Linked DNA regions of Homo sapiens. The protein of the gene in region 2 purifies or fractionates together with the protein of the main gene of each other region. This does not show direct contact. Each region holds a gene or a part of one and is shown on either strand. Other genes may lie near its edges.

Region 1 (3,158 bases), on a different chromosome or scaffold from region 2:
TTCATTCATTCATTCATTCATTCAGTAATTCACTAAATATTTTTCGAGGGTCTTCTATAGGCAAGCCATGCTTCTGAGTGCTTGAGGCCACCGAAATGAACAAATGGAAAACACTCCCATCTTTTTCAAGCCTACCTTTTAGCAGAAGAGGCAGATACACAAGCCCTAAAGATGTAACATCAGGCTGAGTGGAGGAAGGCTGAGAAGAAAAATAAAGCAGGCTCAGGAGGAGAGAGTGATGTCAGGGAAGGGGGTGCTGTTTCAGATGGGGTGGCCAGGGAGGGCCTCTCTGAGGAGGTAACATTTGAGCCAATGCCTGAGGAGGTGAGGGGTGAGCCCTGTGGGTAGCTGGGAGAAGTGTCCCGTCAGAGGGACAGCGTATTAGGCCGTTCTCACACTGCTATAAAGAAATACCTGAGGCTGGGCTCAGTGGCTTGTGCCTATAATCCCAGCACTTTGGGAGGCCAAGGTGGGCAGATCACCTGAGGTCAAGAGTTCGAGACCAGCCTGGCCGACATGGCAAAACCCAGTCTCTACTAAAAATACAAAAATTAGCTGGGCGTGATGGCGGGTACCTGTAATCCCAGCTACTCGGAAGGCTGAGGCAGAAGAATTGCTTGAACCCAGGAGGCGGAGGTTGCAGTGACCTGAGATCACGCCATTGCACTCCAGCCTGGGCAACAAGAGTGAAATCCATCCCCCCCCCAAAAAAAAAAGGAAAGAAAATAAATACCTGAGACTGGGTAATTCATGAAGAAAAGAGGTTTAATTGGCTTGTGGTTCTGCAGGCTGTACAGGAAACACGATGCTGGCATCTGCTCAGCTTCTGGGGAGGCTTCAGGAAACTTCCAATCATAGCGGAAGGCAAAGGGGAAGACTGCACATCACATGGCCCAAGCAGGAGCAAGGGGTGGGAGGTGCTACACACTTTTAAACAACCAGATCTCACAAGAGCACACTCACCATCACGAGAACAGCACCAAGAGGATGGCGCTAAACCATTCACAAGAAACCAGCCCCATGATCCAATCAGCTTAGACCCCACCTCCAACATTGGGTTCTACATGAGATTTGGGCGGGGACACAGATCTAAACCATATCAGATGTCAAGTGCAAAGGCCCTGAGGCAGGGATTGTTGGTGTTCCAGGAAAGATGAGGAAGGAGGCCCAGGATCTGAGGCAACATCCAAGGCAGGTAACCTCATAGGCCTGAGATGCATGCATGCACACACACATATACACACACACACGCACACCTTTATACACCTATACACATACATACACACGCACATACAAACACATACACCTTTATACACATACATACACACACACACCTTTATACACCTATACACATACATACACACGCACATACAAACACATACACCTTTATACACATACATACACACACACACCTTTATACACCTATACACATACATACACACGCACATACAAACACATACACCTTTATACACATACATACACACACACACCTTTATACACCTATACATATACATACACACACACATACATATTGCACACATACACACCACACACATACACACTACACACACACACATAATACACACACCACACACATACACACTACACACACACATACACACACACATAATACACACACCACACACATACACACTACACACACACCACACACATACACACATACATACACACACATACACAGAGACGCACACATACACATATACACACATACACACACTACACATGCACATACACATACACACACACACACACACCATGTGGCCAGATGGTCTCAGCTCAAGGCCAGGATCATGTCCATCTTGTCCATGCCTCTGTCCCCGGTGCTCAGCATGGCCTGGCACACAGTAGGTGTTCAATAAATGCTTGGTGAGCAAATGACTCTCCGTGGCATCTGCTGGGGAGAGGATCTATGGCAGTGTCACCCTCGCTCCCAAATACTACCCTTAAGAAGAACAGCTCACAGTCACTGTGTGCCAGGCTCTGGGGCATCTCTCCCCCTCTAGAGTGGAGCCAAAACTTCAAGAAGGCAGGGGTTTCTGTCTGCTTTGTTCTCTGTTGTGATCAGTGGCTGCACACAGTAGGTGTTTAGTAAATGCCTGCTAACTGAGATGGACACCTTACTGTCATTAGCTCATGCAGAGGAGGGGCCCAAAGCAGGGGGTGATCAAGGCGGGTGCTAAGTGCAAATCCCACTTCTGCCACCTACTGAGTGCGTGACTTTGGAAAGGGGCTTTTGCCATCTTCAAGTCTCAGTGTCCCCATCTGCAAAATGGAGATGACATCAGGACCTGGTGTGGCATTAATGTTCACACACAGACCCTCCACCCCGACCCTTCTAAGAATTCTGTATTTGTGGGTTCAGGGTCATGGTCCCCCGGTGCCAGCAGTCACCTTATGGAGGACAAAACCAGCATAAACCACAAGGCAAAAGGTTAAAGAAACCTGTTTTCTGACTTTTCCCCTCCAATTCCAGGATGCCCTTGTGCTTACTCCAGCCTCCTTGTGGAAACCCAGCTCTCCTGTCTCCCAGTGAAGACTTGGATGGCAGCCATCAGGGAAGGCTGGGTCCCAGCTGGGAGTATGGGTGTGAGCTCTATAGACCATCCCTCTCTGCAATCAATAAACACTTGCCTGTGATGCCTGCCGTCTGGAGTCTCTTTGTCCCGGCACAGGAGTCATTTTGCCCCTGGCAGGCTTGGGGACTGGATGGCTGAGCCACACCTGGGTCATGTTCAGGCACATCTGAGCCAATCTGGGTGATGTCTGGGCCACATGTGGATGATGTCCACAGTCTTGACCACCTCCCTGTGCTTCAGGAATCAGAAAGCCAGCTCTTCCCACCTGCCTTCATGTCAGCCTCAAGACCATCTTCAGTGGGATGGCTTTTAGGGTGGGGGACATATGTTTTGTTTATCTTGGCAGTGTGGTGGACAGAGGACTCTCTGAACAATGTGGATCTGGGGGCAGATGAACTAGGCTTGGAGCTCTGGCTGGCCTCTTAATGCTTCTTTGACTCTGGGATGTAGTTTCCCCTCTGTGGGCCTCAGTTTCCTTCTCCGTAAAATGGGGATAGTCATTGTCTCTGCCTTGGAGGGCTTTGGTGAGGAGTAAATGAGAGAACAGTTCCAGATACATGG
Region 2 (5,805 bases):
AACTAGAAGTAATGGTAATACCTACCTCATAGGACTGTTATGAAGGTAAAATGAGATTTTTAAATGCAAAACCCCTGTGTACAACCTAGAATGAAACAAGCGCTCATTATGTATCGTCACTTCTCCTGCCTTGCCTCCTTCCTCTTTTTAACTCTATGAATGTCCCAGAAGGAGAGGTAGGTGGAGTGGAGATGGGCTATATGCTAGGTATTTGGAATTTGAATAGCTCTCTTTTCTTTTTTACATCTTTCTCTTGCTTCTCTCTTTTCTGTGTTCTTTAAAGCATAGCCAGATCATTTAGATCTAAAATAAGAACACCAAATCAAGCCTTTGCGTTGCAGACAGAAAAATCACGGGTTTTGTATGGGCTTATGGTAATGAAAATCAAGCCCAAGAAACTAAATGATTCAAAGCAAAATTCCCCTTGACAGCTTTTGTCATGTCTCTGTGTGTGTGTGTGTGTGTGTGTGTGTGTGTGTATGTTAAACTAGTACTTTAGCCTACATCATTATTTTACCATGTAAGCATGATAGAATAGCAGGCTTTTTGGAGGGGAAAGATTTTAAAAGTACATGGTTACCTGTAATTACAGTCTTGCAAAGTTTGATTTTATAGAAGTGACATTCAAGTCTGATTTAAACCATGCAGAAAGACATGGTGCATATTGGAAATGCTTTTTCTTTCTGACTCAAATGGCTGTTTCGTTCTAGTGATCTCCCTAGAAGTCAGCCTTTTATTATGTTTATTGTAAGGTTGTGTGTCTTTCTAATTACGTGGCCCATCCTAGAAAACTTGCTACCTTGAGATTACCTTTCTATTTCTCCTTGCATTCCTGCAAACACCTAAACCTCTGTAGACAAGAGGTTCATCTCAGAGTCTGAACTGGCTGAGGATCATAAAATTCTGTCAAATACCTGGTCAATTAAGTTCTGGCTGGAAGAGGGGGTCAAATTAGATGACTGACATGTGCGGATAAGGGCACTGGTTTATTTCACATTTTAGCCTTTAATGTGGGTGGGTACACAAAGCCACAGAGTTTGTTGCCATACCCCAACATAAAAGCCTCTGGGACAAGGTTGAAAGGGTAGCGGGGAGAGGGCCTTGGATAGCGGATGGGGTGGTTAACCCGCGACTCTGGTGACATTTTGCCATCAGCCGCTGGTGACATCTTGCCATCAGCTGCAGCTACAGAATGTTGCTCGCAGGAGGAATTTGGCCTGCCGTTGAAGATGTGTTTCTCAGATGAGACTGTAAGGGGCCGGAGCTTGGGATTTTAGGAGTGCAGGGCCCACCTCTTCCTTGGTATCAAGCCACTTAACTAAACTCTTGCGGTGTCTTATGACCAGGGACGAAGTGCGGGGCCCCTTCAGACGTCGCAGCTGGAGTAACTGTTTTCTTTCCATTTCACAGCTCTTGAAGGAGGTGTGACTGAGTGAGGCGCTGGAAAGCTTGTTCTATAATTACTTCTTGATCCGCTTCTAGGCGTGCTGTGCATGCGTCCGACCATGTGTGTTTGCGTTAGCTTGCGCCGTCGACAAGAGCCAGAGAACGTGGGTCTAGGATAAAACGTGGATGATATTTTTGCTTCAAATGTCACATTTTACGGGGGTCTAAAGGTCTTAGGCTGGAGTCTTTGCGGATGATTGCCAACTGTAGCTGAATCTATGAGCTGGGATGTACCCAAGCCAGTGCAATCGCTCCAAATCAGGGCGGGCGGCACTAAGCCGGGGAGCAAACACCGCTCCCGGCCCGCCCAGAGCAGACGCCCTAGGTTGGGGCTGCAGCGAGTGCGCGCGTGGGCTGTGGAGCCGGCGGAGGCAGCGGTCCGGAATGGCTCTGTGGAGGCTGCGCTCTCTTCCTGGCCCCGCAGCCACAGCAGCTGCCCCATGCTCGCGCGGCAGGACCTACCAGGCGCCCACCCTGGGCTGCGCCGCCTCGGACCACCCGCTGCTCCCCTCCGCCCGCTGCCTCTTCTCCCCGCGCCTCACGGGGCTCCGCACTGACTCCAGGCGCCTCCGGGGGCGTCGCGCGCGCGGAGCGGCGCCGGGGGCGGGGCCTCGTGTAGGGCGCCCCGGGATTGGCTGTGGGGAGAGGGGGCGGGGCCGGCCGCGGAGAAAACAGCCGGCGCGCCGCGCGAGTGCAGTCTGGGTCTGGAGCCTGAGCCCTGCGGAACCTCGGCGCTCGGCCCCACCCCGCCCGTACCTGCACTTATTTATTGTTGTTATTTCTTACCGCGGAGCCCCGCAGTCGGGTCCTCCCGCCCGCTCCCGCGCAGCGCTAGCATTCTCCAGTCCCTCAGTCCCTTCCCGCGCGGTGCGCCGCAGCCGAGGCGATGCGCCTCATTCAGAACATGTGCACCATCGCCGAGTACCCCGCGCCGGGCAACGCCGCGGCCTCCGACTGCTGTGTGGGCGCCGCCGGCCGCCGCCTGGTCAAGATCGCCGTGGTGGGCGCCAGCGGCGTGGGCAAGACCGGTGAGTCGTCGCGCTTAGCCCTGGGTCTGGTCTTGGACGACCCCTGACGGGAGTTGAGGCTGAACAAGGCGTGGGGAGCGGTGGGAGCTGCAGCCCGACCGCTCTCCGTCCCCGCGCAGGGAGCCGCTGCCCCTTGGGAGTGGGCTTAGCCGTTGTCTACGCCACCCGCCTGCTTCCACAGACGGGGGAAACAAGGATCAAGAATGGCCAGGCAGCTTTCTGGGGACCACCGGCACCGCCGCCATCAGAACTTTGGGGTGTTTGAGCCTCTGGCAATGCCTGGCACAGAAAGGGGAGTTAGTGAAGCTAGCCCCCCTGGGAGGTCTTGAAGGTTAGGAAGACATGGGTCTACTGGAAGGCTTAGGTGTGGCTCAGCCGGGCTCAGAGGAGGGGGTGGGCCCAGTGAGCCTTCCAGCTGCACAGAGCCATAATTCACGATGCCTTCTAGCCCCCTCCTTTTTGTCTGGAAAGAAGGGTCAAGGAGCTACAGGGTAGGAATTTCACTTGGTGGCCATCTATGGCTTTCTTTGGGAGAACTGTTTTCCAGGCAGGGGGTGGGGTGGAGAACAATCTAACTTCCAAGGTTAACACTTTGACGTTCTTTTTTCTGACGTGCAGCACTGGTGGTCCGGTTCCTCACCAAACGATTCATCGGTGACTATGAAAGAAATGCAGGTGAGACAATGCATTTGAGAAAAATTCTGTCCCATTGCAGGAGGACTGCGGTTCCCATTTTCCAGCGCTTCCCAGGGAGGTTCTTTCAGTGACAGTCCGAGCCTGAGGATCCCGCCACTTAAAACTTTCCCCAGTCCCCAGCCCTCCATGGCGCCCCCCTCCCATAACTACCATCTGGCCTCATTCCATTCCAAGCCCATTCATCATTTTATCAAGTGCCTGAAAGTATTCCCCTTGGTATGTTTTAACTATAGTGACCCCAGTTGGAAGCACCCTTTGTAGTCAAGAACCTCTCCCTTCAAAACACTCCTGCAAAAGTCGTAAAAAAAAAAAAAAGGAGTCCCTAGCTCCTTCCCCCACCCCTCTCCTTCTCTGCTGGCTGCCTTTCAGAGGTGACCTTTTAAAGCAAAGGCCAAAGGAGAGCAGTTGTAAACCTAAAGTTCCTCCTTCTTAACAAAGACAAACAACTGGATGGTAGAATTTTAGGAGGAGAATTCCCGAATAAATGAGAGGACACATTTTTCAATCCTTATGATTAAGAATAGCCACTGGGGAGGCTTAAGAGCTTTCTGCCTATGCTCTGTTAGCAAATTGCTTAACTCTGTAGACCATATGAGTACCTATAGGGGATTATTTGAAATGAGCTGTATAAGCTATCCCAAGATAAGACATGGCAGCCTTCTGATTTGATGTAGAGTTGATTATAATTATATCACATTTTTATTCCAACTGATAACATTGGCTGTGTGTTTACTAACAGTATTTGTCTAGCAAGCCATTATATCTAACGGCCAAAATACAAAGTTACAGTCAAAGAATGAATCAAGTACTCAAGAAAACAGAAACCTCACATAGGCTGAGCAAGATAATTTGCATCAAGGGAGTACTCTAAAAATGGAAACTTTGTTTAAAACTAGATAAATAAGTTTTCAAAAACTTGCAAACTTTGCCCTGGTTTTAATAAATCTAACATAGGGTTAAAATTGCTGTTGTTTTTTAAAAAAAATCTGAAGTAAGCCCACCAAATAGAAATAAACTATCGCTGTTTTGTGTGCATTTATGCATTGTGCATTTTTTTTCTAGCTTAAAACTCACAATGTTTTAAAAGTTGTACAAGAAGGAAGAACATAATCTCTTTTATTTGCCTTCATAGGTAATCTCTATACTAGACAAGTTCAGATAGAAGGTGAAACCCTGGCTCTTCAGGTTCAAGACACTCCAGGTATTCAGGTGAGAAGCTCTGAGACTCTGGGTGAAAGGGGAACCTACTTGGCTGTGGAATCACTCACTTCTTCTCAAAGTTCCTCATGCTGCAGGATCAGAGAAATTTGGGGAGTCACATCTAGACTTTTACATGTCTGACAATTCAATTGTATCTGGCTGTTGGTCGATCTTAGCATGGTTTAGTTTGGGAGATTTGGCTAGGGGGCAGAAATCTTCCTTTAGAAGGATTCAACACAGCCGGAAAGCCCAAACCGAATGCAGTTGGAATTGGTGTTTTCCTTGCTGTGGTTTAAAAGTCCAGTTTTAATATGTGTGTCTTTGGCATGAAAAACCAAGCTTCTGGGTATAGTCTGCAAATACTTGGAATCGCTTTTGTACTGGAAAGTTGCTCTATAGACAAAAGCGCCATGCTAGGGTTTTTCCCCCCGCCTCCTGAACTGGGCAGTTATCCAGGTTTAAATGCTTCCAGCTCCTATCTTTACTTCCCCAGACTTACTGTCTAGCCAGTTAATTTCCCATTTTGTGCAACTACAAAGTCGCTCTGCATGGAGTTCTCTGCAGGTCAATTTTCCACTTGAGTGTGGTAAGCTGCACTGTTATTTATTCCCACTCTGTGCAGCTGGATCAACATATTGTCAAGAAAGCTGAAGTGTGTGGGATATAAGTTGTTTATGGCCCTCAACCTGGCACTACTATGAAGGGCTCTTTTGAATTTGAAATCTACCCAAGCCCAGGCTCTTTGTACAACTGGCCAGCATTCACCTTGCCATCACTCCTCTCTTTCAGGTCCATGAGAACAGCCTGAGCTGCAGTGAACAGCTGAATAGGTGCATTCGCTGGGCAGATGCTGTGGTGATCGTTTTCTCCATCACTGACTACAAGAGCTATGAACTCATCAGCCAGCTCCACCAGCACGTGCAGCAGCTACACCTGGGCACCCGGCTGCCTGTGGTGGTCGTGGCCAACAAAGCTGACCTGTTGCACATCAAACAGGTTGACCCTCAGCTTGGACTGCAGCTAGCCAGCATGCTAGGCTGCTCATTCTATGAAGTGTCTGTCAGTGAAAATTATAATGATGTCTACAGCGCCTTCCACGTCCTCTGTAAAGAGGTCAGTCACAAACAGCAGCCTAGCAGTACACCCGAGAAGCGAAGAACCTCCCTCATTCCCAGGCCCAAGTCACCCAACATGCAGGACCTGAAGAGGAGGTTTAAGCAAGCCCTCTCTGCCAAAGTGAGGACTGTCACCTCCGTCTGAAGCAGGAGGAGCACTCAAGGGGGTTTGGTCTTCCCAGGAAGAGGGCCTGAGGTTCTCCTAGTGCAGGAACGTTGAATATTGGCAATGATTCCTGGTTCCAGAAAGGGCTGGAGCAGAAGGGCCAAGAGGGCCTGTGGAACTGCTACAGAAAAGGAAGTGTTGTTCTGAGCAGGGG

Evidence for each region.
Region 1: the proteins of RASL11B (region 2) and BPIFB1 purify together in Homo sapiens (affinity purification with mass spectrometry; one large-scale study listed by BioGRID and IntAct). This does not show direct contact.

The regions. Positions count from the first base shown.
Region 1 is NC_000020.11:33,307,214-33,310,371, forward strand, and holds the end of BPIFB1 (BPI fold-containing family B member 1 precursor), read left to right. Parts: intron 1-2,494; coding exon 2,495-2,554; 3' UTR 2,555-2,658; downstream 2,659-3,158. UniProt on the Homo sapiens protein: May play a role in innate immunity in mouth, nose and lungs. Binds bacterial lipopolysaccharide (LPS) and modulates the cellular responses to LPS.
Region 2 is NC_000004.12:52,860,176-52,865,980, forward strand, and holds the start of RASL11B (ras-like protein family member 11B), read left to right. Parts: upstream 1-2,141; 5' UTR 2,142-2,332; coding exon 2,333-2,474; intron 2,475-3,092; coding exon 3,093-3,149; intron 3,150-4,302; coding exon 4,303-4,379; intron 4,380-5,159; coding exon 5,160-5,630; 3' UTR 5,631-5,805.